Linked DNA regions of Homo sapiens. The protein of the gene in region 3 purifies or fractionates together with the protein of the main gene of each other region. This does not show direct contact. Each region holds a gene or a part of one and is shown on either strand. Other genes may lie near its edges. The genes, in order: MYH7, MYEF2, ZSCAN5A, MYH1, RIOX2, CDYL2 and HPSE.

The links.
Region 1: the proteins of ZSCAN5A (region 3) and MYH7 purify together in Homo sapiens (affinity purification with mass spectrometry; one large-scale study listed by BioGRID and IntAct). This does not show direct contact.
Region 2: the proteins of ZSCAN5A (region 3) and MYEF2 purify together in Homo sapiens (co-immunoprecipitation; one large-scale study listed by IntAct). This does not show direct contact.
Region 4: the proteins of ZSCAN5A (region 3) and MYH1 purify together in Homo sapiens (affinity purification with mass spectrometry; one large-scale study listed by BioGRID and IntAct). This does not show direct contact.
Region 5: the proteins of ZSCAN5A (region 3) and RIOX2 purify together in Homo sapiens (co-immunoprecipitation; one large-scale study listed by IntAct). This does not show direct contact.
Region 6: the proteins of ZSCAN5A (region 3) and CDYL2 purify together in Homo sapiens (affinity purification with mass spectrometry; one large-scale study listed by BioGRID and IntAct). This does not show direct contact.
Region 7: the proteins of ZSCAN5A (region 3) and HPSE purify together in Homo sapiens (co-immunoprecipitation; one large-scale study listed by IntAct). This does not show direct contact.

What each region holds. Positions count from the first base shown.
Region 1 is NC_000014.9:23,428,464-23,432,660, forward strand, and holds part of MYH7 (myosin-7), read right to left. Parts: coding exon 4,176-4,197; intron 4,044-4,175; coding exon 4,016-4,043; intron 3,407-4,015; coding exon 3,298-3,406; intron 3,215-3,297; coding exon 3,122-3,214; intron 3,019-3,121; coding exon 2,955-3,018; intron 2,537-2,954; coding exon 2,438-2,536; intron 2,201-2,437; coding exon 2,097-2,200; intron 1,451-2,096; coding exon 1,312-1,450; intron 885-1,311; coding exon 766-884; intron 642-765; coding exon 492-641; intron 208-491; coding exon 37-207; intron 1-36. UniProt on the Homo sapiens protein: Myosins are actin-based motor molecules with ATPase activity essential for muscle contraction. Forms regular bipolar thick filaments that, together with actin thin filaments, constitute the fundamental contractile unit of skeletal and cardiac muscle.
Region 2 is NC_000015.10:48,150,351-48,154,547, forward strand, and holds part of MYEF2 (myelin expression factor 2), read right to left. Parts: intron 3,544-4,197; coding exon 3,442-3,543; exon of another isoform or gene 1,957-3,441; intron 1,935-1,956; coding exon 1,884-1,934; intron 1,593-1,883; coding exon 1,524-1,592; intron 1,222-1,523; coding exon 1,123-1,221; intron 822-1,122; coding exon 750-821; intron 1-749. UniProt on the Homo sapiens protein: Transcriptional repressor of the myelin basic protein gene (MBP). Binds to the proximal MB1 element 5'-TTGTCC-3' of the MBP promoter. Its binding to MB1 and function are inhibited by PURA.
Region 3 is NC_000019.10:56,220,237-56,224,433, reverse strand, and holds the end of ZSCAN5A (zinc finger and SCAN domain-containing protein 5A), read left to right. Parts: intron 1-599; coding exon 600-803; intron 804-1,692; coding exon 1,693-1,843; intron 1,844-2,107; coding exon 2,108-2,859; 3' UTR 2,860-3,131; downstream 3,132-4,197.
Region 4 is NC_000017.11:10,511,667-10,515,863, forward strand, and holds part of MYH1 (myosin-1), read right to left. Parts: intron 3,230-4,197; coding exon 3,202-3,229; intron 2,459-3,201; coding exon 2,344-2,458; intron 2,248-2,343; coding exon 2,155-2,247; intron 2,024-2,154; coding exon 1,960-2,023; intron 1,300-1,959; coding exon 1,201-1,299; intron 1,119-1,200; coding exon 1,015-1,118; intron 881-1,014; coding exon 742-880; intron 527-741; coding exon 408-526; intron 323-407; coding exon 173-322; intron 1-172. UniProt on the Homo sapiens protein: Required for normal hearing. It plays a role in cochlear amplification of auditory stimuli, likely through the positive regulation of prestin (SLC26A5) activity and outer hair cell (OHC) electromotility.
Region 5 is NC_000003.12:97,948,294-97,952,490, forward strand, and holds part of RIOX2 (ribosomal oxygenase 2), read right to left. Parts: intron 3,960-4,197; coding exon of another isoform or gene 3,902-3,959; exon of another isoform or gene 3,859-3,901; intron 3,849-3,858; exon of another isoform or gene 3,317-3,848; coding exon of another isoform or gene 3,225-3,316; intron 2,596-3,224; coding exon 2,493-2,595; intron 1,723-2,492; coding exon 1,551-1,722; intron 1-1,550. UniProt on the Homo sapiens protein: Oxygenase that can act as both a histone lysine demethylase and a ribosomal histidine hydroxylase. Is involved in the demethylation of trimethylated 'Lys-9' on histone H3 (H3K9me3), leading to an increase in ribosomal RNA expression.
Region 6 is NC_000016.10:80,629,546-80,633,742, forward strand, and holds part of CDYL2 (chromodomain Y-like protein 2), read right to left. Parts: intron 3,692-4,197; coding exon 3,474-3,691; intron 1-3,473.
Region 7 is NC_000004.12:83,303,527-83,307,723, forward strand, and holds part of HPSE (heparanase isoform 1 preproprotein), read right to left. Parts: intron 2,792-4,197; coding exon 2,677-2,791; intron 1-2,676. UniProt on the Homo sapiens protein: Endoglycosidase that cleaves heparan sulfate proteoglycans (HSPGs) into heparan sulfate side chains and core proteoglycans. Participates in extracellular matrix (ECM) degradation and remodeling.

The DNA.
Region 1 (4,197 bases), on a different chromosome or scaffold from region 3:
GCAGGGAGAATTCAGGTGGTAAGGCCAAAGAGGCACCTTCTCGATGAGGTCAATGCAGGCCTGCAGGTCCATGCCAAAGTCAATGAATGTCCACTCGATGCCCTCCTTCTTGTACTCCTCCTGCTCCAGCACAAACATGTGGTGGTTGAAGAACTGCTGCAGCTTCTCGTTGGTGAAGTTGATGCAGAGCTGCTCAAAGCTGTTGAACTGCAGGGGGCATGAGGGGTGGGAGCAGTCAGAAAGTGGGTGTGAGTGGCCATTGGGGCTGTGCCCGTCCACTGTGCCTGAGCCCAGCAGGGCGTGGCTGGTCCCCTCCATGTCAAGGCAGTGAAGGAGGGCTTCCCCTGAAGACAGAGAAAATGACTGCCTCTGTCACCACACAGTCCCCACTGCCTTCCCATGTCTGGTCCACAGCTGGCTCTAAGCAAATAGCTGTTGAATGTGGGAGCGAGTGAGTGATTGTTCTCCCACTCCCAGGGGTCCCAACTCACATCGAAGATCTCGAAGCCAGCGATGTCCAGGACTCCTATGAAGTACTGGCGTGGCTGCTTGGTCTCCAGGGTGGCATTGATGCGCGTCACCATCCAGTTGAACATCCTCTCATACACTGCCTTGGCCAGTGCCCCAGTGGCATATATCACCTGCAAGGTGGAGGAGAGACCCATATTGAGCAGGGTTGTTGGGAAGAGTGAACTTGAAAACTCTCATCCCACCATGCCAGTCTCCCTACCCTGCCCACCCATTATCATCTGAAGATGGACCCACCTGCTGGACATTCTGCCCCTTGGTGACGTACTCATTGCCCACTTTCACCCGAGGGTGGCACAGCCCCTTGAGCAGGTCGGCTGAGTTCAGCCCCATGAGGTAGGCAGACTTGTCAGCCTCTGGAAGGAAAAGGCAAGTAGCAAAGTTGGTAAAGAGATGACTGCTGGCCAGGTGTGGTGGTTCATGCCTGTAATCCCAGCACTTTGGGAGGCCAAGGCAGGCGGATCACTTGAGGTCAGGAGTTTGAGACCAACCTGGCCAACATGATGAAACCCCATCTCTACTAAAAATACAAAAATTAGCCAGGCATGGTGGTGCATGCCTGTAATTCCAGCTACTCGGGAGGCTGAGGCAGGAGAATCACTTGAACCCAGGATGTGGAGGTGGCAGTGAGCCAAGATCGTGCCACTGCGCTCCAGCCTGGGCAACAGAGCAAGACTCCATCTCAAAAAAAAAAAAAAAAGAAAAAAGAGAAGAGAGATGACTGCTGAGCAGACATGGCCCTCCATGACTTGACAGCTGCCCCCAAGAATCCCTGCCTCCCACCTTCAGTGCCGTCTGGCTCCGCCTGCTCCTCCCGCTGCTTCAGCTTGAACTTCATGTTTCCAAAGTGCATGATGGCGCCTGTCAGCTTATACATGGAGTTTTTCTCCTCTGAAGTGAAGCCCAGCACATCAAAAGCGTTCTGTAGGGAGGCCCCATATTGGCGGACCCCAGAAAAAGAAGTATGATGGGTAAGTGAGATCCCTTGTAAGTTGGAGAGAAAACTTGTCTCCTTAATCCCTGTGGGTTCTGAGACTCCCATACCCAGTGGGGAGCTCCAAAACAAAGGATGTAAGATGCAGGGAACTCCAAAACAAAGGATGTAAGATGCAAGAGCAGAGCAGACGTCAGTTGGCCGCAGCCCCAGTGTCAGTGGCCACAGCTTTTCTGAGTTACCCACTTATGCTTCCTGGCCCTACACTTGCTTCCTGCCTGGCCTTCCATACCTGTCTGCATCTGTTCACCTAACAGCCCCTCCAGCCCCATGCCGTCTGCATGGCCTTCCCTCCTCGTCCTGCTCCCTCGGTGATGCTTGTTTCTTGGCTTGTGTGTCTCTCTGTCTCATGGCTTTCAGCTCTTCCTGGTTTGATAGAACACCAGATACTGGCCAGTCCTGTCTCACCTCATCCATTCCCCAGTACACCCTGATCACAGGGCACATTCTGGCTCTCAGGAGGTCCATACCACTTTAAACAACCAATGGCCAGCGTCTTAGCTCTGCTTTTGGACCCCTGTTTGCCCCTCACTGCCAATCCTCCCACCCCCTGGCTGGGTCCTCACACACTCACATCAGTGGCCATGAGCTCCTCAGCGTCATCAATGGAGGCCACGGTGGTCTCTCCTTGGGAGATGAATGCATAATCGTAGGGGTTGTTGGTGATCAGCAGCATGTCTAGGGGAAAAAACATGGTTAGGGTGGGACACAAGCCCCCGGCTCTCATGGAGGCTGCTCGCCACAGCACATGGCCTGAGGAAGAGCACAGGACAGGGCTTGGCTTGGCCCCACATCCCACTGAATTGAATCCAGCAGTGCCATGAAACCCAGGGCATGCCAGCTGAGTCCAGCCACAAGCAGAGGGGACCAGGTTGCCATGGAGATAGTTGGTCTCAGTCGGTGGCTCTGACTCACCCAGCAGCTCAGGCTTTTTGTTAGACAGGATTTGGTAGAAAATGTGATAATCTCTCTCTGCTTTCAGCTGGAAAATAACTCTGGATTTTTCCAGAAGATCTGTGAACAGGTGGGGAGAAGAAGGAGAGAAAGAAAAGTTAGGGTTTGGGCACAAGGAAAATTAATGATAAATGTAGCAAGCAAAAGGCAGAGGGAAGGGAAGAGCCAGAGAGACTAGTTGGACAGACACAAAGAGATCACACAGAGAGATGGAAACAGAGACCCAGAAGGAGAGAAATAGTCTCAGAGAGAAATCCCAGAGAAAGACACCTAGCCATGCAGAGACAGAAATGGAGAAAGATGCAGAGGAAGTCTCAGAGAGAGACAGATATGTAGACCTGAAGACAGAGACACCTACAGACAGAGACTTAAAGAGGAGAAAAACAGAGGGAGGGAGGGGAGAGAGAGAGAGGTCAAGACCAGATGGTCTAGAGCAAGGGTGAGCTTAGGCTGAGCCTAGCAGATTCATGGCACTCACAGGTCTCTATGTCTGCAGATGCCAACTTTCCTGTTGCCCCAAAATGAATTCGAATGAATTTCCCCTGGAGAGATGGAAGAGAGTGGTGATGAGTTGGGGGAAGGCTCATATCTGAGACCATTCCTCCACCAGTCCAAGTCCCAAGGCCAAGGTCAGGGACCACTCACGAAGCGGGAGGAGTTGTCGTTCCGGACGGTCTTGGCATTGCCAAAGGCCTCCAGAGCAGGGTTGGCCTGGATGATCTGGTCCTCCAGGGTGCCCTGCAGAGGCCAAGAAGGAGGCAGGTGAGAGCTCTTCTCCCTCCCTTTCTGCGGTACAGGACCTTGGAGGGCAGCAGGCCTACCTTGCCCGGGCTCTGGTCCTTCTTGCTGCGGTCCCCAATGGCTGCAATAACAGCAAAGTACTGGATGACCCTCTTGGTGTTGACTGTCTTCCCTGCTCCGGATTCTCCGCTGTGAAGACAGGGGCTTATTGGGCAGTGAACAATACTACTGGAGACCAGCAAGCCTCAAATCAGGAGAGAATGCCTGGGCCTACCCGAGAGTAGGAGCCCTGGGCAAGAAGCTGCCAGGTTATCTACACCCAAAATCCACAACTGTCTTCTGATGCACAGAGGTCAGGGCTGGCACCAGGAAGGATGCCACCAGAAGGCACTGGTTTGGGCAGGCTGAGCCTGTGCTTGGCTGGGCAAAGTAAACAGGGGAGATGGGCCTGGGCTGTTTTGGGAAAAGTTGGTAGGGCTGGAAGAATGGGAAATGTTTCTGAAGGGAAAGAAAATGCAGAGGTGAAGACATGGCGATAATGAGCTTCTGGATAAACGCGTGATGAGTTGGAGAGTGGGTGAAGGAGGTGGGAGAGGAAAAACATGAAGGGGATGGAAAGCAGAAAGGAAGAGGGAGAGCAAAGAGAGGGGTCAGGGTAATGGTCAGAGAAGAAGGAGATGGGCACGAGGTTGGGGGGAAAGAGGCTGAGTCTATGCCTCGGGGCCTGGGACACCTGATGGGGCTGGAGGCTGGGATCAGGGAGATTCTGAAAGGGAATACAGTAGCAGCTACACTCACGTGATCAGGATGGACTGGTTTTCTCTGTCTGTGGGGAGAGGGTGGGGAGGAAAGGTCAGGAGCTGCACAGGATGCTCTCGTGGGGCTTCTCCCTTCCTTCTCCCTCTCCCTCCCGGCCTATCCCAGTTCCCTTCAGGAAGACCCTTCCAGGGCCTCTCACCTGTCAGCATGTACTGATAGGC
Region 2 (4,197 bases), on a different chromosome or scaffold from region 3:
TAAGCTGACAGGATTTTAGAATTTACTTTTAGAATAGTTTAAATAGGTTGTATTTTCTATTTGTGAAATTTGATCAATTAAAGGAAGTCAATAAAGTATGGAGAGCTCAGAGACATGTCCCAGTAAGCAAAAGAGGTTAAAAAAATAAATAAATAATCCATGTATTCAGGCTTAATATAAGGCCTAAAAGGTAGGAGTGGAAATAGACGGATGGGAGATTCAGCATTCCCCAGTGTTGCAACTACTCTTGATGCTATTACGGGAAAGGTTCAAGAGGAAAAGAATTAAGTACCTCTTTCAACCTTAGCCTGACTCAAGCTCAGGAGATGCCTAAGAGTGCTATATCTGCATTTACCAAAAGACATAGATGTTTACAAATAAAATAAGCTAGTCACTAATAGCTATTATAGAAAATAAGCAAGGAAACAAAGTTGGTGCTAAAGCAAAAGTTGCTCCTGAAACATGATCAGAGAAATCCCCAGATTCCTTAGTTGGAAAGAAGGTTCCTGGATTGGCTGTTAACACATAGTTTAGAAATATCAAAAAAGTAAAATTCAAACAGTTAATTTAGAAATTTCAAACAATAATCAAACAGAAAGGCTTTGCTCAATTATCAAGGTTTCTCAAATTATAGCAAGACACATTAACGTATAAGAACAAAGTATTACTATACTACGATAACTACTCTTGCAAAGTCTTTGCAAGCACTCAAATATTACTGAATAAATTCTAGTAAAATTTAAACCTACTTATTCCAGATCCTACTGGACCCATGTTAGAAGATCCTATTCTTCCTGCAAACCCTCCAATCATTGCACTGCCTAAACAAGGATGGAAAGATAATATACTAATTAATTTTAAATAATCATACTTTAAAATTCCCAAGGTACTATGTGCTCTGATTTACAATAAATGAAAAGCATAAAGTCTTCTGAAAATAGAGTTCAAATATGTAAGATGTTGAAAAAGAGAGCTAGCATATTAAAATCCTTAAAGTGTTTTCTTCAGGTAATAAGTTGTATAAAACATTATGATTTTCTGATTTTTCACAAAAAAAGAGAAACCAAATTTCAAAAATTATAGCCTACAAAAAGAAAAGGAGAAGTATGCAGCCAGCCCTACCAAGTCTACCAAAGGAATCTCCAAAGCCTCGATTTATTCCAATATCACCACGTCCAAAATCTCGCTCCATGCTACTAGTCATCGCACCACGGTACAGCTCTGAAAAAATTGTGCAACAAATTAACCTTTTCAAATATATCAATACATGTTGAAAACATTCAGGAATGTATCTAAATTATGAAAAGACGCGTAAGTCACAAATATAAAATAGTCTGTCATTTACCCAATTTACCTCACATGCCACACATATCATCCCCATTCCCCAGGCCTGTCCTTATCCCCTAGTGCCTATATGCCTTCTGAAGACATTTTTAGCACACATTCCTAAGTTATAGGGGGGAAATATTAATAATAGGGAAAACTAAATATGCACACACTTCCCACTGCATACATTTACCTACCTCCCATTCGGCCAACTCCTCCAAATCCTCCCATGCTATTCATTGCTTCCAGACCACCAAACCCTATTCCTATGGAATAAAGATTAATTTTGAGATCCAACTGTCAGTCATGTAGCTGAAAGGTACGTTTTGTAAATGTTAAATCTCACCAGTAAGCTCTTCATCCACCCTACCTTGTGCAGCTACTTCTTAACACATCACCTTCCTTTAAGTATGTACCAGGCTCAATTTCTGCTAGCAGCCTTTAGAACATGAGCCAACAATAAACCATGACTTTTTTTTCATGGAATTCTCAACACAGTTTCTAGTTTATTAAAAATGGTGATGGGTACATACAAAAAAACAAATCTTTATACATACCTCCTCCAATTCTATTCATTCCTCCAAAACCTGGACCATCCATTCCCATACCTCAAATAAAATACACAGTATGTACTTTAAGTATATTTTATTTTTATGACTAAAAGATGATATAATGCATTATAGCAAAATAGATACCACTGGTATAACCACAATGAAACACTAGAGAAGCGGTAGGGTACAGGAGGCATGGTTTAAAGTGCTATGCCATAGCAGCTGTCTAATCATGAATCTTCAAAAGGGTTTCTTTGAACATTTATCAGACAAGAAAGCAAAATTCACTAGTAACACCCACAACATTCAGTTAGAGAATATCTTGAACTAGGTAATCATTCACTTTTTTTTCCACAATAAACACAGAAATACTACTATCAATGATTTTTTTTTTCCAGCATAGACACAGAAATAGCATTACAGCAGATTTAGAGATCAGGCCAGAATGTAAGGACTCTCTAAACATCGCAGTTAAAAGAGCAGTAAAAATTTTCAAAATATAAATAGTATGTATTTAGGAGAGGGTAGGTAGGTGTGAGAGTCTAAGGGTAAGGGAGAAAACTTGTTTGGATCAGAATGATTATGATAATGAGCCTCATAATTTAAAGTGTGACTACAGCATCTTGACAAAATAGGAATCTGATAGCATTTATTAGTCCATCAATTAAAACAGTAATTCACAAAGTATGGTCCAGGGACTCTTGAGGGTTCAATAGGTCAAAACTATTTAAGTCACCAAATACTACTAAGACATTATTTGATGTTTTACCCTCATTCTCTTGAGTTTAAGGTGTAATTTTCCAAACACTATATGATGTACAATATCACAAAAAACTAAAGTGCAGAAACAGATATAACAGCAATATTAAGCCAAACATTAAAAAGATGTGTGGAAAGGTAAAACAATGCCACTCTCCTCACCAATTTCTTTTTTGCATTGAAAAATAGTTTATTTTCTTAAAACTTTTATGTATGTTAACATGTAATGAGTTTATCATTTTTTAATATGTAATTTTTTTAATTTCTAATTTTTCATTTATAATACAGTAAATACTGGTAATTATAACTACATAAACAAAGCATTTTCGGGTTCTCAACAAATTTTAAAATATAAAAGGGTCCTAACACCAAAGTTTAAAAACCAATCTCTAAAAATGAACTGTGAGTTCTTCCAGGTGAGCAGCCAAATAACTACCTGAAAAGCCACCTTCCCAAATGGATAAACAGATTTTAGCTGCCTATGATATGGTAGCATTTCAGCTACTCCATAAATACTGTTCATAGATGATATATTCTCCTTCTGCCTTCAAGACATTTCAAAATCCAAAATGCTAAAAGGCTAGCTACAACATAGCTGGCCCCAAAGAAACCCTCCTGACTTCTGCCTATCTCTTTCATGTTAGCTGTGCTCAAGGTTTCATTCCTTTTTCAGAATGAAGTGACACCGTAAATATCTAACTATTAATTAGAGTCCTTTAAACATTATTACAGACCACATCAATGGAGGCTTTATTAGCTAGCATATGTATCATTTAAAAAGAAAAGAGGAAGTTAGAATACTCACCACCTGGACCTAAATTTCCCATTACTCCACCTATGTTCAACTGGCTGGCACTAATAGGCTGTCCACCCGGACCAAGTCCCATCCCAATGCCTCCAAGACCACCTAAAACAAAAATGAGAACAATCATTACAAAGATCCATATATGATTAACTAATTGGCAATAAAATTTTTTAAAAAGCTATATACCTGTAGTAGTATCTGTAAAATTTCTGCAAATTTTCATATAAAAGCACTGGTTCTTGTTTTTGTCTAGAAAGTAGCACACTGAAGCCCGACTATAAAACCATTTATTAATGAGAAGTGTTTTATGAAATAAAACATGATATAATACAAAGTACACCTTATACCCCACTTAAAGGTACACTGAGAGGAATAATAAAATACCTAGAGGATTTTGAATAATATCATATCACCTTATATATGGCACACATATCTGAAAATGAGTATCTTGCCCAAATTTGTAGACCCACTTAAAATTTGATAATTACTTTTTAAATGGTTCAAATCAAACTAAAAAGTCAATAACCATGAAAGTATAACACTGAATAAGGCAAATATTATATTACCTAGTTTTCTCATTGATATAAATATTTATTTATATTTATATGGCACCTTAAGTGTTTCCACATCTATTGTCCATAGAAGAGGAAATTTTTGAGACCTTAGGTTGCTTGCATAATGACATGTAGCTGATTTTAAGACTTTGGTCTTTGCTGTCAAACTGCACAAACTGCACAGGAAGGACAGATTACTTAT
Region 3 (4,197 bases):
AATAATCATCCAGATTCCAATATCAGCTGTGCTGAGACGGCAAGTTCCTGGTGTAGGAGATGGACAGGCAGAGGGGGTACAGGGACCCACACACTGTGTGAGGCCAACATGAAAGAAAGACATTGGTGAAATATTAGGCCTGATGGAATGTAGGGAAGGAGGCATTAGAGTGAACTGAAGGGGGGCCCAGGAGTCCCATCCTGAAGCAGGGAAAGTGGTTGGTATCAGATGCAGGGATCTGCCCCCAGGTCCCCAAATGAGCCCCTAAGTTCTAATACAAGGTGAGCTGCCATCGGCCAATTGAGTTGGATTCACCCAGAATATTTCTCCTTGTCTTCTCTTTGGTTTAGAGACTATTTCATCTAAAGGACCCATGTTTATGTACTTAACTAGAATATTCCAGGCGCAGGCAGGTGCTGGAGTCTAGAGAGGAAAAAATTCAGACAGGATTGCTGTGTCCACAGAGCTGACTCTCTATTGGGAAGGCAGATTTGAACATTAATTACAGTAAAGTGTGAGCATTATGGCAGGACCCAGGGAATATGAGAGCTACTTTCAGGTTCTCATGGTGAGTCTGATTGTCTTTTTTCTCTCTACAGTCTGTGGTCACCTTCCACGGAAAGGAATATATTGTGCAGGACTCAGATATCGAGATGGCTGAAGCCCCCTCCAGTGTCAGAGATGATCTGAAAGACGTGTCCAGCCAACGGGCCTCCTCGGTGAACCAGATGCGTCCAGGGGAAGGCCAGGCCCACCGAGAGCTGCAGATCCTGCCCAGGGTCCCTGCATTGTCCAGGAGGCAGGTGAGTGTGTGAGGCCTTGGTGTCTGGGCAGAGGTGGGAGAAGGAACAGGAGGAAATCGTGTGGCCGCTGGACTGATTGAGAGATTTGACACAGGACAAGATTAGAGCCATTCCCCATGGACATGATACATCCCCAAACATTCATTCCTGAGCCATCACAGAGAGGGAAGCCTCATCTACTTTTCTCTCCACCATGAGAGCTTTTAGCATTTAGGGTGGGGCATAAGAAATGATCTCAGTGAAATGAGGGAGGCAGTTTGCACAGATGAATGAAGATTCCTTCCCCGTAGCCAGTTTCCTCAAAGACATTTAATGTAATAATTCAGCAAGGAAACCATTTTCTACAGATTGTCAATTTCTTAATTTGAGGAGTGTTTCTCAACTGGGGTGATTCTGCCTTTCCGGACACATGGCCATGTCTGGAGATGCTTTTGTGTGTCATTGTAGGGGATGGTGGGGTGTTAATAGCATCTAGAGGGTGGAGGTGGGGTCTCTGCTCTGCACAGGAGCGCCCCCTCCAGCAGGGTGATGCAGCCCCAATGCCAGTGGTGCCACAGCTGAGGGGCCTCGACTAGAGTCATGCTCCTTCCAGTGTCAGGTGCAGGGAGACGTTGGCACGGCGGGGAGAAATATGCTCAGAGAACCAAACAGTGAAAACCACCAGGCACAGGAGCTGATTTGGAATATGGAGGGTGCAGATTAGGGACAGACACAGAAATGAGATGGTGATGTTTACGTGGGGTGATGGGGTGGTCCAGGGGAAGTCTGCACGTATTTCCACACCTGTGTCATTAGAAGAGTTGTTGCATCCAATCAGAAGGGGACAGATGTGTCCCTGCTTCCACCAGTTTGGACACAGCAGTCATTACTCTTGGTTTTTCCTCTTCAGGGAGAGGACTTTCTGCTACACAAGAGTATTGACGTAACAGGTGACCCAAAGTCTCTGAGACCCAAGCAGACCTTGGAGAAGGATCTGAAGGAAAACAGGGAAGAGAACCCAGGACTGACATCCCCAGAGCCTCAGCTTCCAAAGAGTCCCAGTGAGTATGAAGACTTGGATCCACAGGGGTTAGTCCCTCTCTTCTGGGGTGCGGGGCTGGGGGCCCAGCATTATCATCCCCTGGGGGAGTTGGCACTCAGCTGTCAAAGCCTCCCCATCCTCTACTTTCCAGAGACCTACAGTCCAATGTCTTAGGCTTGAGCTTGAGCGGAAGTTGTCAGCCAACATCAGTGTTTGGTTGCAATGAGTTTGGTGTATTGAAAATGCGCTTTATTAACTGTGTGTGTGGAATCCCTTCTTCCAGCAGATCTGGTGAGAGCAAAGGAGGGGAAGGACCCCCCAAAAATAGCCTCTGTGGAAAATGTGGATGCTGACACACCTTCTGCCTGCGTTGTGGAGAGAGAAGCTTCGACTCACAGCGGGAACAGAGGAGACGCTCTGAATCTGAGCAGTCCCAAAAGAAGCAAACCAGATGCCTCCTCCATTTCCCAAGAAGAGCCTCAAGGAGAAGCCACACCTGTGGGCAACAGAGAATCCCCGGGACAAGCTGGGATGAATTCAATTCATTCCCCAGGCCCTGCGAGCCCAGTCAGTCACCCGGATGGCCAAGAAGCCAAGGCACTGCCGCCCTTTGCATGTGACGTGTGCGAGAAGAGGTTTACGTGTAATTCCAAGCTAGTCATCCACAAGAGATCACACACAGGCGAGAGACTCTTTCAATGTAATCTCTGTGGGAAGCGCTTCATGCAGCTTATTAGCCTCCAATTTCACCAGCGAACCCACACTGGCGAGAGGCCCTACACGTGTGACGTCTGCCAGAAGCAGTTCACCCAGAAGTCCTACTTGAAGTGTCACAAGAGAAGCCACACAGGGGAGAAGCCCTTCGAATGTAAAGACTGCAAGAAAGTTTTCACCTACAGGGGGAGCCTGAAGGAGCACCAGCGCATCCACTCCGGAGAGAAACCCTACAAATGTTCCAAGTGTCCAAGAGCCTTCAGTCGGCTGAAATTGTTAAGACGCCACCAGAAAACACATCCAGAAGCTACTTCTCAGTGATTGCATAATCCGGTCTATGCCTTCTGCACCAAGAAGAAGTGAATGATATTTTTCATCAATGTTATCAGATGACATTTGACACATGCAAGGGCGTCTGACACACAGAGGGAGTGCCCTAGATATGAATTGCCAGGATGTTTGAGTAAATATGTGTCCTCCCCACTGAGCTTTGTTTTCTGTTTCATTATGTCCATTGTTTTCTTATAGGTTTATTTTGGTTTGTGTTGCTGTTCTTCCAATAAACGATCATCTTATTAGTTTTCAATATTGTATAACGGAAAACTGAGTTTCCTGATTGACATGGGGTTACCCACTGTTTTGCTGTAAAGTACAGTTGTCCAAGGAGGGTGGCCATATAAAATACATAATGCCTGATGAAATTTGAGTTTCAGATAAACAATTTTCTTTAGTATCAGCATGTTCTAAATTATTTATTTATCTGAAACTCAGCTTTTATTGGGTATCCTGTAGAGTTTTCGTTTTCTTTTTTCTTTCTTTCTTTTTTTTTTTTTTTGAGATGGCGTCTCCCTCTGTCACGCAGGCTGAGGTTCAGTGGCATAATCACCGCTCACTGCAGCCGCGACCTTCCAGGCTCAAGCAATCCTCCCATCTAAGCCTCCCGAGCAGCCGAGACTACAGGAGCACGCCACCAACTTGGCTAATTTTTGTGGTTTTTGTAGAGATGGAATTTTGATATGTTGCCCAGGCTGGTCTTGAACTCCGAAGTACAAGTGATCCAACTGCCTCGGCCTCCTTAAGTGCTGGCATTACAGGCATGAGCCGCTGTGCCCTGTATTGTTTTTATTAGACTTTATTATAATTATGATATTCAAATTTTTGAAATAATTTTTTGTAGTGATGGGATTTCTTGTTGCCCAGGCTGGTGTGGGGTGAGCCACCACGCCTGGCTCTAGACTTTCTTTTTCAGAGCTGTTTAGGTTCACAGGGAAATTCAGTGGACAGCACAGAGTTCCCCTAGACTCCCTCCTCACACAACACAGCCTCTCCCTGCCCAGCATCCCCAGCAGAGTGGTGCACCTGTTCCATCAGTGAGGCTGCCTGGACATATCACCACCACCCAGAGTCCATAGTGTTCATTAGGGCTCGCTCTGGGTGTTGTACGTGCTGTGGGTTTGGACAAAGGCCTCATGAGTACACACCACTGGAGTATCCTGGGGGGTATTTTCACTGCCCCCGGAATCCTCTCTGCTCTGCATATTTATCTCCCTGCCCCAGATGGTGTATTTTGTGGCCTAAATTTGGCAACCTCTAAATTCCCGATTTGACTCTTGAACTACAGAGGCATTGGGAGTCTCTGGTGACTAGTTGGTCTTAGTG
Region 4 (4,197 bases), on a different chromosome or scaffold from region 3:
AAAGTTCACTTCCTTTCACGGTCTTTTGGTGCTCTTTCATGTGTCAGTTAAGTTTAAAGTGCAGCTATTTTTCATAGACCCTTTCCATAAGTGACTACAGGCATGCTATATGACTGCAGCAACAAGCTTGCTTGTTGGAAACTTTTTTGGTACAATTTTTCTGCTAACTCACATCAAAGATCTCAAAGCCAGCAATGTCCAAGACCCCAATGAAGTACTGCCTGGGCTGCTTGGTGTCCAGCTGCTGGTTGATGCGGGTGACCATCCACAAGAACATCTTATCGTAGACAGCTTTGGCCAGAGCACCCACTGCATTGTACACCTTCACAGATAAAGTTTGTTGGTGTTATTAAAGACATGTCATGAAGGCCTGGGATGTGTGTGATTCATTGAGGTCATGCACTTACCTGCTGCACAGTTTGACCTTTGGTGACATACTCATTGCCGACCTTGACCCTAGGGTAGCAGAGGGCTTTGAGCAGATCTGCAGAGTTCAGATTTTGGAGATAGGCTGCCTTGTCAGCAACTGCAGAAACATAATTCAGATACCTAATATGACTTACTCTGGGACCCACAGTTCAAAGGGGCATAGTATTGAGTAAATAACTTTGTAGAAAGTCTGTGTGTGGGTACATCTGAGTATGTCCATCAGGAGCTCAGCTGTAAAGAAGACTTGAATTTTGGAATGGACATTTTTGCCTATATTCTCTCATTAAACCCAGATGGAGATTCATTTGGTACCTTCAGTGCCATCTGGCTCAGCTTGCTCCTCACGCTGCTTTTGCTTGAATTTCATGTTCCCATAATGCATCACAGCCCCTGTGAGCTTATAGATGGACACTCTTTCATCTGAAGTAAAGCCCAGAATTTCAATGGCACTCTACCATGAGAGATGAGAAGACAAAGATTAGGGCACAAGAGAATTTATACTGTATCTTTTACACACATATAGATGGCTGTTATTGCCATTCCCATGCATAATGGATTTTAAATTAAAATTCATGTATAACTTACATCTGTAGCCATCAACTCTTCTTGGTCATCAATGCTGGGCACTGTGATCTCCCCTTGACTGACGAAGGCATAATCGTATGGGTTGGTGGTGATCAGGAGCATTTCTGGGTCACAGAATTCAGGGCATATGTTTTACATTAGAAGATAGTACAGTGACAATCTTCTAGCTATGAATTTATTTCTTACCAATTAGATCTGGCTTCTTGTTAGACATGATCTGATAAAAAATATGATAGCTTCTTTCAGCCTTTAGCTGGAAAGTAACTCTAGACTTCTCCAGAAGATCTGCAACGGATAGTAGACATCAGATTATGGGGAAAAATTACACAATGTCCTGGAGTGATTTGAGGACTTGGGATCATTAGCTAAATCTCACTGGCCTCTTGAGATTTCAACTGAATGTTCCTGTGAAGTACCACATATTATGTCTCTACAAACACTATTGCAGTTCCTCCTGCCTCCTGGGAAAAAAGTGAAATATGCTTGGCTCAAGATATTCACTTCTCATACAGAAGATCCTTGACATTTGGAATATAATTGAGTCCTGAGACTCCCTCTGCAGGGTCCTGTCGCCATATAATAGAGGGACTACTAAAAGCAACAGTATTAAAGCTCAGACTAGGAATAAATCACATATCCTCAATCCCTGGACAACTTGTTTACTTCTAGTGTTAGTTTTTTCTTAAAAAAAAAATTGAAATCATTCTGAGGCTGGAATACTTTGGACATGCCCAGCAGTTCCTGGCAGTTCCCACAGAAGCATTACCTCATGACTGGAGTGGGTAAAGCATACTGTGGGCTATGGATAAGACTGACATTAACCACAAGCATGTTTGGCAGCAGACTGGTGCTTTACAAGCTCCATGTTCAGCAGGAGCTGCAAAGTGTTCCTCCAAACCAATATTTGTCATTCTTGGATTCTATTTAGGAGGTCCTGTTACTCACATGTTTCAATATCAGCAGAAGCCAGTTTCCCTGTGGTACCGAAGTGGATCCTGATGAATTTACCCTTGTAAGTAAAAAAAATGATGTTATACCCAAAGCTTGAAGTACGTAGTGGGGATGCCACTGAAATAATTCAGACATGCTTTCTCTGGCATCTAAAGGCAGAGAAGACCCTTTGGCAACCAAGAGACTTACAAAGCGAGAGGAGTTGTCATTCCTCACGGTCTTGGCGTTGCCAAAGGCCTCCAGTAGGGGGTTGGCACTGATGATTTGATCTTCCAGAGTCCCCTGCAAAGGCAAGAGCAGTCCTTGCATCTGGGGCTTGGGAATTTCCTACCTGAGAGTCCCGACAGAGCCTGGATTCTGACTAACAATCAGACTCACCTGCATTTTGCCAGAAGTAACTTCTTCCTTCTTCTTCTCCCCAGTAACTGCAATTGTTGCAAAGTACTGGATGACACGCTTGGTGTTCACAGTCTTCCCTGCGCCAGATTCTCCGCTGTCAAAGACCAAACGTATGAGAAATTAAGCACTGTGACAAATGAAACTACAACTACCTCATGGCTTTGTCTTTATATCTCTATTAGAGAGCCTTTTACATCTTTCTTTTCAGCCTACATATAGCTCGTATTATTTCTTTTGCTTTGCACTGGCAAGAAGTAGAAAAAATCAGTCATTGTTCATTTAACACGTATTTCTTGAGTGTTTATAATGTGTCAGCTTTTTTTCTGGGTGCTGAGGCCTGGGCTTGAGGGGTCTGAAAAGCAGCTACTCAGCACCTCTGTAGTGAATGGAACAATTAGTAGGAAACTCTATGAAACGTGCATGTGTTTTTCCATTTCCTCGGACTAGAGACATGGCTCAAGTTTGGTCTTTGAAGGAACAGACATTCTCTAAGTGGGCCTTAAAAATGAACCACTAGTAGTATTTCCAAACTGTTGTACCTTTTGAAGGCTGTATGCTGCTCATTGCACTATACTGGGTTCCAGCCCAGCTCATTTTACACTTTCTACACACCAAAAAGTTCTGTGGAACTTTCAAGACCAGCAAATGAGGTGATTTAGAACATTATTATTTTACATTCTAATGCAATGTAAACCTTATAATAAAGCTAAACCAATATCTAGTTCCAGGTTGATCATTCAGTGCTTTAGTAGAGAACATTAACTAATTTCTTTTTTTGGTTTGTCATTTTTCCAGTAAGAACAAACTGCCAATAAATCTCAGAATAGGAATACATACGTGATCAAGATAGACTGATTCTCCCGATCTAGAAGAAAAACAGTGGAAAATCAGCATATGTATCAGTTACACAAACAAAACTTTCTATAGTGAAACAGGGCATTTGAGTATAAGTGTCATGTATTCAGTGGGGTTTTTCAATATATTATGGTAAAGTTATGGGTGTGTCCTGCTGGTTTAATATAAAGAGCAGTATTCTCCAAAGCTAGATACATTCCGTAGTTGTCATCTGTAGATTTCAATGGCATGCTATCTGCTAATTAATGCATATAGCTGAAAAATGCATAATATGCTAAAGGCTTGGACTATTATTTAATAGATTGAAATAGTGTTAATCAAGCCATGACTGAGATTTTGTTTCTAAATGTGTCAGATGACTTCACAAAGAGAAAAAATTTACTATCTTATGGCCACAGACTAACTTCAATATAGCCCTAACTTCGATCAGCCTTCCCCAAAGTGTACCATTGTGTTAAAGAAAGATGAGGTAAGAGAGGATGCCTCAATCAAAATAAAATCTTTCTAAGGGGGGAAAACAATTTCTGTTTATATGTGTGTAGCCCCAAAACATCATCTTCATTCAAACAGAGGATATTATATCTGAGATGTACTCTGATAACTTTAAAGAGATGACAGTACTTGTAAAAGAATCTAATTTATAATTAACAAGAAACTGAGGCACCAAAAGGATTGAACTCCTATTTTTCATTTCTATTCAGATAATACATGATTTATATGATTCAGTTGTTACTTAATCTTGGCTCTTATTACTTAAATATATAAAATAAATTGTGTGTTTCCAAGCAAGGAGACCATAAACAAATTAAACTTAATGGGATGGAGTAATAGCATGGCCTAGTAAAGTCAGTGAGGTGTAATCAGGAGAGCTGTGTTTTAATACGAGCTTTGACAGTATATACTTCTCTGTGCTTTAGTCACCTCTGCTGAACAACCAGGGGCGTGAATTGGGTTTTTTTCTAAAGGTCTTTTTTTAGT
Region 5 (4,197 bases), on a different chromosome or scaffold from region 3:
CTCTCTTGGTCATAATTAAGAGTTTTATTAAAGTTAGTAAAAAATACTCTTTTCACTCAACCCTGAGAAAGAACAGCAGCCAAAAAGCTGGCCTGGCACTCACAGCTAGGTCTTTGTGTTCTCCTGTTGAACACAGGCAATTCCACAGAATGCTAACATCAGAGATCACTGTCACCATGATAGGTCAAAACAAAACACCACCACTCCGTACATACTCATGTCTGGACTCAGGCAAGGCAAGAACATATTCCAAACCACAACACTGACCGAACATCCCCCTACTCTGGCTAATGAGTGACCACTTCCGCTTTACCATTGATAACTTCAGCCTCATACATTCCTCCTGCCTACCAGATAACATTTAGGAGACTTAATCATAGAATCCCTTCCATTTCCTGACAGCATCCAATCCAGAGCAAAGCCCTGCTTCCTTGAACCCTCTCCAAAATCACCTAACATACACCTGAGTCCTATAAGTCTTTTCTAACACCGTTTTACTGAGATGCCCTGCAGTTCTCAATGGTGTGTGGTCTTCCCACTGCAACAAGTCAATAAATCCAATTTCGTCTGAATTCAGGAGTATGTTCTTGGTGGTCTTTGCTATAGGATACTGACATCATCCATCTGGAAGTCATCAATGACATCATCCATCCAAAAGTATGTTATATCATTTGCAGCCTAAATCTGTCATAAATTAGGCACCTGTGCCTTGGAGAAGGTTGATGATAATCTTGGACATTTCTTGAATCTCACTGGCTGATGGTAACAATTTTACCCATGCTATGATTTGGATGTTTGTCCCATCCAAATCTCATGTTCAAATTTGATCCCCAGTGTGGAGGTGCAGCCTAAGGGGAGGTGTTTGGGTCACATTGTGGGGAGCAGATCCCTCATGAATAGATAATTCCCTGGGGTTGGGGGCGGTGAGTGACTTCTTGTTCCATTAGTTCCCATGACAGCTGGTGTTAAAAAGAGCCTGGCACTTCTCCTCGCTCTTGCTTCCTCTCTCACCATGTGTTCTGCAAATGCCAGCTCCCTTTCCCCTTCCACTGTGAGTAGCCTGAGGTTTTCTCCAAATGCAGATACCAGCACCATGCTTCTTGTACAGCCTGCAGACCATGAGCCAAATAAACTTCTTTTCTATATAAATTACCCAGCCTCAGGTATTCCTTTAAGCAACACAAATAAAGACAACCCAACCCTGACTTAATTCCAACAAGATTATTTCAATGTTCAAATTTTGAAAACTTCCTGAAGACTATGAATACCAGAGTACCTATAAATATACATATTTCTCACCCAAAAGGACAGGGCTCTTATTTCCCATCAGGGTGGGATACAAGTTCTTTCCAAATGACTTCTAAGATACAGGTTGCTAAAGGTTGAGTGCAGCACATCTCGTCTGCCCATATTCACTAAGGATGGATGTGGTCCACATTAACACGAAAGCACTTCATACTTTCCATCTGTTCAAAAAGGAGCCTACCCAGAAAAACCGTAAACATCCTGCATTAGCCTCTGACCACCCAGAAGAAAACAGCAAGCTCCACCTGGTGTTGACAGCTCTGCCCCATCTCCCGCAGAGTAAGGGGGGAGTCTGTGCATAATAAAATCCTTCTTCATGTCTGAGGAAAGCAGTTCTTTGGTGCCCTCCAGCCGGTCTGCAAGTGTCCTCAGGAAGCCACTTAATCGTCTTGTAGCAACAGTTGTGGATTCCACCTGCTAGGAACACAGAAGTGAGTCCTGGCCCAGATGCCAGCAGAACTTACTGCCCAGCTCAGTCTCCACAGTAGACTGCAAAACTGCCAGCCACCGGGTATAGACATTAATCCATGTCATTCCAAAGGGGAAGGGACAACCTGAGCCCCTAAGAATGATATCTCATCATTTCCTTATAAACACTGTTAATTCTAAGCTGCCTATTGTTTGCAAAAAATTTTCAGAATTTTGCCTAGAAATAGAGATCCTTGGAAATATGGTACAGTCTGAGCTCTGCCTTTTGGAAAGCAGGTCACTGTCCTAAGATGAATGCTTCAGAGAAAGCAACCTTTGCTCAACTCAGCTCTAATCCACTCATCTCAAAACTAATCAAATAACACTCCTGTTTCAAAATGTAATAAAAGAACAGGAGGCCAACGAATACACCGAGGCCAGGATCTCCAGTACAGTGAGTTTCTCTTAACTAGTAATCTGATGTGTGCTAAATCTACAGTTCTCCTGGCCGTACTATTCATTTACTCAACCAACATTTTCACACTGCCTGCTACTGCCACTGTGAAATACAGAGCTGTCTGTACAACATCACAGTTCTTTGGATCACCACATAACACATGGCACTCCACTCATTCTGCAAGTCACACAGCTCAGCAGTGCAGCACAGTAGACAAGCCTGGCTCATGTTGGAAGAAGTATCCTGGGGTCCTTAAGGTAGGACTTCAGCTGGCCTGGGCTGCAGCTACCATCCTTCATTCCTACCTGCCTTTACTCCTTACCAGGAGCAGCTGCCGGGGTATGCCGGTCCGTAACTCCACGTCTTCCTTTGCAGTATCAAATACAAGCCCCGAGATGGTATCCAAAAGGAAATCTCCCCATGAACTAGGATATGCACCAAGGGGGAAAAAAAAACCAAAACAGTGAGTGCATACGAAATATACATAAAATACTTATTGCTAGTAAAGCCAAAAGCTACAAATTGGATTATGGCTTCCCTGTCCAGGCATTTTGAGTTCCATTAATTGGACATTACTCAGCATGGAAATCTAAGACCTTCATCAACCACCCTGTTTCCTCCCTCCCCGTTCCAGACACTCACTTGCAAAGTTAAAAGTGGGAAGCTAGGCTTCAATACTGATTTCTCTTAAAAGCTCTCAGAAAATTAACCATAGACTTTCATAAAACAGGAAGTTCAATGGACCAAATTTTTAACAAAAGTGTCTATGAGGGGAGATTTGTAGGAAATTTAAACAGTCATTATAGGATCTAAAACCAAATTTTATGTGCAATAAATACAACAAATTTGGGGTAACAGCAAGATATCTGGATTGTGTAATTATTTGAACAGTTGTATGTTACATTTTCCTTGTCACTTACAAGGGATGCTACTCCTAAAGAAAATATCTACCATCAATAATTCCAAAACAATTATGTCTAGCAGTGGTTTTACCGGGGGATAGAAGCCAGTGACTAAAAATAACATCTAGGGACAAATATCCCTATTCAATTACCTTTGCTTTCTCTGGGGTATCTGGAATTGGCTCATTCCTAAGTGCGTGCCGGTGTAAGAAATGCACTCTGTGGGGATGCTCTCTTTAAACATTTCTTAGCTATTTAAAATTTTCCTGTGTCACCAGCAGATTTCAAATTGCCGGCTAGTAGAAAATGGAAATTCACAGTATGACTTTTACTTCTCACTCAGTAAGCAAAATTAACACTGTTATGCTTCCCTCCCAGAAAAGTTGCAAAGGAGGACAAAAGCCACATGAGAGACACTTTTCCCAAGACATCTACTACCTGGCGGCCTCACTGCTTTGTGACTTAATGTTATATCCAACCCTGCATCTTTAATTGAGTCTCAACCCGGAGGGCACATGCAGATCTCTCAGCACCATACAATATGTGCTTCCTTTGCAGGTTTATGTAGGTGGAAGTCATACAGCAACAGCTCATGGAGGAATTTAGTAGAAGTTAAATAGTGCTCCTCTAAGAGTCAGAATAGATATTGGGACTTCCCACAATTTAGGAATATCTCTTGAAGGGTCCACTTTGGTAAAACAACCAAATCAACAACATACAGCAGACCCCCAAACACTCCAACAATGCTACCTTGACAGGTGTTAGGAAGAGGCCCCAAATATTCACCTTTACATGGTACCTGAAGGAGCATTAGGCTCAAAACACAGGATCATTTCTGGGGAGCAATGGCCCTCAAGTCACATCTTCTCATTCTAGCTCCAGCATCACTGTCCAAGACACAGGTCAAAATCCAGCCTGGACACATTGATCATGGTACCCACCCACAATCCTAAGCAGGCAACTTCTGTAACTTAGGAAGCTCTTCCCAGCCCCAGCTGAAAAGAGAAGAAATGAATAGGACCCAGGGGCAGCCGGCCAGTTCCTCACTCTTGGGATTGGGAAACAGAGAGTGAGTCAGGTCCTTAGCAGAAGCAAAAGCTAACAGGGTCAATGAGATGGAGGTCA
Region 6 (4,197 bases), on a different chromosome or scaffold from region 3:
GTGGATAAGCTTTCAATCAAGGAGACTGTGTCATCTGTTTCACTGACTCTTTCCTTAAGGGGCATTTCTGTTCATCTCCTGGTTCTCTGCTGTATCCCAGACAGGAGAAATATTACAGCAAACCCACTAGCTTCAGAATCTACTTAATGCACACAGTAATGTATGAATTTCTGCCCATGAGGCCAATCCAACCAATGTTACACATACAACTAGAAAAAGCAACTTAATTATAACCATGAAAGTGGTCGCCTTCTGGTTCCTCCATTCACAAGCAAGGCAATGTCTGCTGGTGGACATTAAATGGCCTCTGCTTCCCATTAACAATGATGGGAACATTTATTACATACCTCCTATATGCCAGGTACTTTGTGGGCTCCTGTGCATACATTATCTCTAATCTTGCCAGCAAAATACTGTAAAATTTCTATAAAGGAGGAAGCTCAGAGCAGCAAAGTAACTTCCCAAGGTAACAGCATGGTAAGTTGAAGGGAGGATTGGAAGCCAGGTCTGCTAGACTAAAACCTGTATTCCTCCTCTCACACAGCCTCTTCATTTCAGTAGGACCTTCATTACGGGCTGCTTTACCCAGTCAGCTGGCTCACCCACATACTCAATCCCCTTCAGTTGTTGAGACAGCTGAAAATACCAGATCAATAACTTTGACTGTTTTCCTCCTGTTCTGTAACCAACTGACACTGATTAGGGCAGGAACCCCAATTAACCAAGCCCGCAGCTCAGGAGGTGAGAACCTGTGCACCTTAAATCAGACGAGCACAACATGTTTTCCATGATGAGTGGGCAACAGTTACCACCCAGGGCTGCTCCACAGAGGGAATGAACTGGAGACTTCACATGTGTTCAATTTCTTGAAAGAAAATGCTGTGCCTTTTTAGAGCACGCTTTTAGAAAGTAGTGAAGTAGAAAGAATCTAGGAAAAACTGGTCTCTGCAGATGTCATGATGAGCTTAAAATAATGAGGTTTCCAGGTGTATAAACATATGAAGAGCTGCTTTCGGGGTGGACTGCAGGCTCTGGGCTTCTTTGAATCCCACACAGAGGTCTACACAGCAGAGAACCCCAGGGATGCTTCTGTTACAGGCGGAGGATGGAGAGGCCCCCAAAACACCATGCTCAGAGAAGGGGCAGCACACAACCACTACCCCACAACCCCAAAGCTTTAGCCACAGTGCTTCCCTCACCATTTGTCAATCATTCCAGATGGCCGCACCCACAACCCCGTAAAAGAACCAGGGTCTATTTCAACCATAATAATAATGCAATCACAAATTCAAGAGCACAGCACCTCCCTCCCCACCCCACTTCCTATGCCTCCCTGATGGTACGGGGTACACTGGACAATGCTAGGTCATTCTATTATCCCGATGTGAGTGAGTGGCCATCCCTTGACTTCATCCTCCAAAACATACCCTTCTCATTAACCTCCCATTGCTATTATGAAAAAGAGAATACAGGATATTGCAAGGACAGAAAAAGGGGTCTCGGAGTTAAATGTCTTCAGTGGGCCTGGCACTGGGATGAACAGAAGAGACAAAAGGGCGAGCAAGAACAGAACCCCTGCCCTCCTGGCACCTACTTGGTTAAGCTGTGAGACCCTAGCCCAGTTGGGTTGTTTAAGCCTAAATTTTCTCATCTATACAATGTGGATCATAACAATCCTACATCAGAAGGGAGGTGACGAAATGACATGAGATAAACAGCAAATACAAGGAACAAAGAGCCCCTGTTCAGTGGCTGTCATCACTGTTATCGCCATTTACCACTCTACTGCCCTACCCCAGGCATCTTGTAGGAAAAGGCTGCTTCGTGGAGCATCTTCCCACCTTTGTGCCGTCAAGAATCTGTTCCCTTCTCCTGCCATGTACCCTGTATTTTGAATGATGTTGTCAATCTCACTGCATTAAGTATTCATTGTTTCCCTATTTTATTCATCTAAGACATAAGCATGATTAATATTTAAAAAGTAATGTAGAAAAAGCAGTAAAACAGACTTTATCAAAATTTAAAAATTTGTTTGTCATAGGGCACTATCAAAAAAGTAAAACATCAACTCTCAGAATAGGAGAACATATTTTCAAGTCAAGTATCTGATAAGGCCTTACTATCTAGAGTAAATAAAGAATGCCTAAAAGTCAACCATAGAAAGAAAAGTGACCTAATTTTAAAAATAGGCAAAGGATGTGAATAGAAAGAAGAGATAAATGACCAATGCACTCATGAAAAGATGCTCAACATGACTAGTCATCAGGGAAATGCAAACCAAAGCCACAATGAGATACCACCTCACATGCACTAGTATTGCTATAATAAAAAAGACAGACGTAACAAGTGTTATCGAGGATACAGAGAACCTAGAACCCTCACATACTACTGGTCAGAACGTAAAATGGGGGACCCACTGTGGAAAACAGTTTTTGCAGTTCCTCGAAAAATACGGTAAGCAATATGACCCAGCAATTCTAAGAATTGGAATAGACTCAAGAAAATCATATTAGAAATTAGAAATATATCCAAGAAACCTGAAAATATATGTTCACATAAAAACTTGTATATAACATTTGTAGAAATATTATCCATAAAAATCAAAAGTAGAAACAAGCCAAAAGTCGAACAAATAGAAAAGGTGATAGATAAAATATAGTCTATTCATACAATGGAATATTATTTAGCCATAAAAGGAATGAAGTATGGATACACACTAAAACATGGATGAAACATGAAAACATGCTAAGTGAAAAAAGCCAGACACAAAAGGCTACAAACTGCACGTTTCCATTGATACAAACTGTCCGGAATAGGCAAATCTACAGAGACAGAAAGTAGATGAGTGGTTTCCAGGGCATGGGAGAAAGGAGAATGAAGTTACTATTTCATGTGGGTGAGGTTTCTCCTTGGGGTGATGAAGATGTTCTGGAATTCAGTAGTGATGATGCTTGCACAATCTTGTGAATATATTAAAAATCACTGAATTGTACATTTTAAAAGGGTGACATTTATGGTATGTGAAATCAATCTGTCTCAATTATATATACAATATGTAGTAACATATATATGTATTATAAACTGAGTGAGATACATTAACTGAGTGAATTATATCTGCGGCCAACAAATATGACATGCTGATGACAACAAAGTTTAGCTGGAAAAGCCCAAGATGTGATGTTTGGATTCTGGGTCTGCCCCTTGGCTAAGTCTGTGTCCACGATCAGTTCAGTGAGTCCCTCTCCCCATGGTCTTCATCCATAAGATGAGAGGGTATCATTACACGGTCATAAAGATCAAATGGGATAATGTATGTAAAATGATGAGCAAATTGCGCGCTGCAGTCAAGTTTTTATGCACGCTAGTTACCATCCTCAGCTCCCTGATGGAAGGAAGGAGAAAGCCAATATTCCATTCTGAGTGAGAAGGAGCCACAGCCCAGCTTGCCCTTCCCTCTGGCCGCCACCCCTTACCTCAGGTGTCAGGGCATTGTTATCCGAGGTCTGACTGGACAGCAGGATGTGCGTGAACCCTTCTTCCTTCCGCACAACGATGTCTCGAAACCGACAGTTGCTTTCATTCTGGCGGACACTGTATCTGAGCCTTTTGTCAAAGACGTAGTCCTTCTCCGCTTCCAGCTTCCTCTTCACTGGACTGTGCAGGTTCAATCCCCCGTTGGTCAGAGCAGAGCCTTCCAAAACCAGATAAACAATGTAAGAAACTGAAATGGACCACGATCCTAGAAGGATGTGATCAGAGGACGTTGGGATTTCCAATGGAAAGGTTTGGATGTGCTGGGACACACCACCTTCTCCCCTGTGCCACCCTCTGTTCTAGGAAGAGGGAAGGTGAAGAGACAGGCTGAATTCCTGCATCTCCAAATTCAGAAGGGGACCTAGAGGGCTCTTTGTGAAGGCCCTGTGCGGTCCTCTACTCTCTTCTCCCATATATCAGCTTCTGCTCAGATTCCTTGGCCACAGGGAATCCACTGACCACCCTGAGAGGCAGCCCTCTCCACTGGTGGATGCCTATGAATCATAGGAAATTATCAATAAGAGCAAGACCAGCAGCTAACCTTTAACCAACCCGTATTATGTGCTAAGCACCACCCTCAAATACATTCACGAGCATGACCTTATTTAATATGAGAACCAGAGATGGGGCTCTGGGACCCCCCTAGGGCTTCCTCAGGCGCTG
Region 7 (4,197 bases), on a different chromosome or scaffold from region 3:
GTTTTTACAAAAAGGATACATACTAAAATATGTATTTTTTTGAGACATGGTCTTACTCTGTCACCCAGGCTGGAGTGCAGTGGTGTGAATGCAGCTTACTGCAGCCTCAACCTCCTGGGCTAAAGCGATCCTCCTGCCTCAGCCTCTCATGTAGCTGGGACCACAGGCATGTGCCACCATGCCCAGATAAGTTTTTGATTTTTTGTTGCCGTAGCTGGTCTTGAACTCCTGGGCTCAAGTGATCCTCCTGCCTCAGCTTCCCAAAGTGTTGGGATTACAGGTGTGAGCCACCACACCTAGCACATACTGAAATATTTATAGATAAAGTAATATATCTGAAATTTGCTTCAAAGTAATCTAATAGGTAGGAGGTGAAAAGTGGGAAGGATTACGGATTAAACAAGATCAAAGTATGCAGGAGGAAATTATATTTTCCTCCTACTCTTTAGTTCTTAGTTGGGATGGACCTCTGTAACAAGACAGAAAACAGGAGAAAACAAACAGAAGCTTGTTAACATGTATATTAATACATGTATGTTAACAGAAAATACCAGGGAACAAGTAATTCTCAAAGAGGTGGCTTAGAACTCCAGCTTATAGAGCAAATTTTTGGACAAGAGACATGACAAAGGAAAAGGATTTTTAGTCTCTGGGGTGGCAAGTTGTGGGAAGGAAAATAAATGAGTATGTAATATAGATTCTTCTAGTGCCATCTCTACACTGATAAGGGTCTGAAGTTATCTTCAGTGATTAACTCTTGTTTTTCCTGGTAGAAAGGGAAGGAGGGGGACTTTTAAGATTCATGTCCTGCTTTTAGGCAAATGGAGAAGGACAGAGAACTTTTCTTCTATGTGTTTCTTCCCAGTTGCCTTTAGCTCGAAATAATCCTTATGCCAAAGTGGCATATTTTGGGGTGGCATATTCTAGTCTCCTAAAGTGGGTTCATATACTTTCCTCTGTATTTTGTATATGATTAAAATTTTCTATAGTAAAAGTTTTTCTTAAAAAACTGCGGATCGGTGGTGGGCACAATGGTTCATGCTGTAATCCCAACACTGGGAGGCTGAGGTGGGATGATCACTTGAGCCCAGGAGTTTGAGACCAGCCTGCACAATACAGTAAGACCTTGTATCAATTTTTAAAATAATAAATAAATAAATAAATCACCATTCAACACATACCCCAACTTTCCTTCTTGAAAGTAGAGGGAAAGTAGACTTAACAAGACAAATGGCTTTTGTTTCTCTGCTTAAATTCCACTTTTTCACTGGAGACAAGAGTGGAATCAATGTTTTCAAAGGAGACATAAGCATGGGTCAATGACTGGTAGGGTAGAAAGTATGCAGGCCTCAGAAGCAGGATTTGAATGGGATTTTTAAGAGTAACATAGGACTACAGTATGGCTTCCTGTAAATCATGCAACCTCTTCTCAATTTGAACTTCCTTATCTAAAAAATGGATCCAAGATACCTGCCTTGCCACCTCACAGGACTGTCATGCAAATAAAATAAAGTCACAGACATGTAGAGTGAGTTTAAGTCTAATTCTCTTGGATCTACAAGTGAGAAGGGTACCATTTACTCTTGCACATTTTTCTAGCTGACTGAGAACCTTGAAGGAGAAGCATATTTAGTGCATATACAAAGAGTTCGTAAGGCAAAGGTTTATGTCTGGGCCCTGGGAAAATTTGGATGAGATAAAAAGGTCAGGAGTAGATTTTGAATGTTTGTCTGGTGAAATTACTATGCTTAGTTTAACTCTATACATGACAGAATATACTTGGGGAAAGATAAATTCCATTTTTGCAAGATCACTTTTCTAAGAATTTTCTAAAAAAAGATGACTAATATGTTCCACAAGCTTGGATCACTATAGATAAAAAGCAATTTTGTTGGGAAGTCTATCCACAAACCACAAAAGCCTAGCTTATATTTTCACGTACGCTCTTTGCAAAATTTCTTAGCTTTCCTACAACATTCAAATAATTCTTTTAGGAATTATTCTTAGAAAATATATATCTGCAAATGACATTTTAGACTATAAAAATCAAGGTCATGCTTCTCAGGGCTACATCTGTATTATCCCTGACATATATTTAGACATACAGATCTTCCACGAGGCTTTTTGGGAAGAAACATTTCCTGATTTAGCACCAGATACAGTTGGAGGAAGGATTAGAAATAAGACTTTATTCATAAATATCTTGAAGATTATTAACAACATAGTAAATTCTTAGCATGAGATTTTTAAGCAAACACATGGTACTGGCTCATTTTAAGGTTAAATAAATTACAATTTCATAACATAAAAAATGTTTTGAAGCTTTGCGTACTGTAGGCAATTATAACTTTGATTTACTTTGTAAAACATTTGAAAATCCAACTTATTTTGTCTTGTATAATGAGTCATAAAATTTCAAATTATCCCCTTTTAAACAAAATCCACACTATACTGCAAATGGCTTACCTTTAAAAAGTTATTCCTAGCTCTTGATTTCTTCTCTTCAAACACACAAAAAAATGTTAGATTGGATGCTATCTAAGGCTCCTTCTAATTCATCATCTCATGATTTGGCTAGTTACTGAGAGGACTGACTGTTCATAGGAGGTTAACACCAGAGGTCCTGAGTTGACTTTAATCTACTCCACTAGAATTAGGAAAATAATGGTCACTTACAGGTAAAGGATCGAAGTTTTCATCCACTAAATGGTAGTTTCCTGCTCCAAAGAATACTTGCCTCATCACCACTTCTATTCCCATTCGGGCTGACAGGCCCAATTTATCCAGCCACCTGGGACAGAGCAAGACCAAGCTTTCTTGAGGTTTGGAAACAAAATCGCTCAATTCTAATTGCACACCATCTTGATTTTATTTATGTATTTATTTATTTACTTATTTATTTATTTAGAGACAGGGTCTCACTCTGTCACCCAGGCTGGAGTGCAGTGGCGTGATCATAGCTCTCTGCAACCTCAAACTCCTGGGCTCCATTAATCCTCCTGTCTCAGCCTCCCAAGTAGCTGGGACTGAAACCGCCTTTGCAAAAATTATAACTGAGGAAATTATGACAGTGAAAGAGATCAGACCTCATTGACTCCATCTTGCTTCTAACCTTTAAGCTGTCCTTCTTCATTCCTGGGTGTAGGCTGAACTAACTTTGGGAAGAAATTCAGTTCATGGTTTGACTCTGAAACAAAAATGATAATAGCCCTTTTCTGAAAAGACCCCCTTCTTGCCTGGGGACAAGTCTACCTTTGCAGGACTAACAAATTAGCTACAACATTAGAGATTACGGTTTAGGGATAATGCAGCCTCTGGCTCCAAGAGTCTGAACCTCCCCAAATTGTTCCTGGGGATAACATCACTGTTGTAAAACCTAAGATCAGTGCTTGAGATATCTTGCAGACCCTGAACTGGGTGGATCATTTGAGACCACCCAGACCGGTAATCTGGCCCAACCAGTTCTGCCATCCCATCCAGGAACAGAAGACAGCAAGAAAACCTCACTTCCACTCCCTGTGATTCCATCTCCAACCTGACCAACCAGCACTCTCCACTTCCTAAGCCCCTACCGGCCAAATTATCCTTAAAAGCTCTGATCCTCGAATGTTCGGGGAGACTGATTTGAGTAATAATAAAACTCTGGTCTCCTGCACAGCTGGCTCTGCATAAATTACTCTTTCTCCTTTGCAATTCCCCTGTCTTGATAATTGGCTCTATCTAGACAGCAGGCAAGGTGAACCTGTTGGGTGGTTACAGGACCACAAGTGCATGCCACCATGCCTGGTTCTGGTTTATTGATCTTTGAGGGAGGAATTAACAGGAAGCCAGAAAAGTGTCATCAATTATAAATAAGTCATTTAAATGAAATGGCAACTGCATGCAGCAGCAGCAGCAGCAGCAGAATCCCTCCCTTTACATCTTTCCATATGATAACAAATCCTAGAAGACTATTACCATGCTAGAGGTATCCCTTTCAGGGTGAGACAAATTCCCACCTCTATAGACAATTCCTGGTCCTATGAGGTCCCTGCACAAACAATGTGTGAGGGCTGAAGAAAAAGTGGCAGTCAGCGGGGGTAAAATGTAAAATAAGCAGAATTGCACCTAAGCTATTATGGACACCTCTTCCCACTTCTCCTTCTCTATCCCCCTTCTCCCCGACACCCCAGATCTTTAGTTAATGGCAAAACAAAC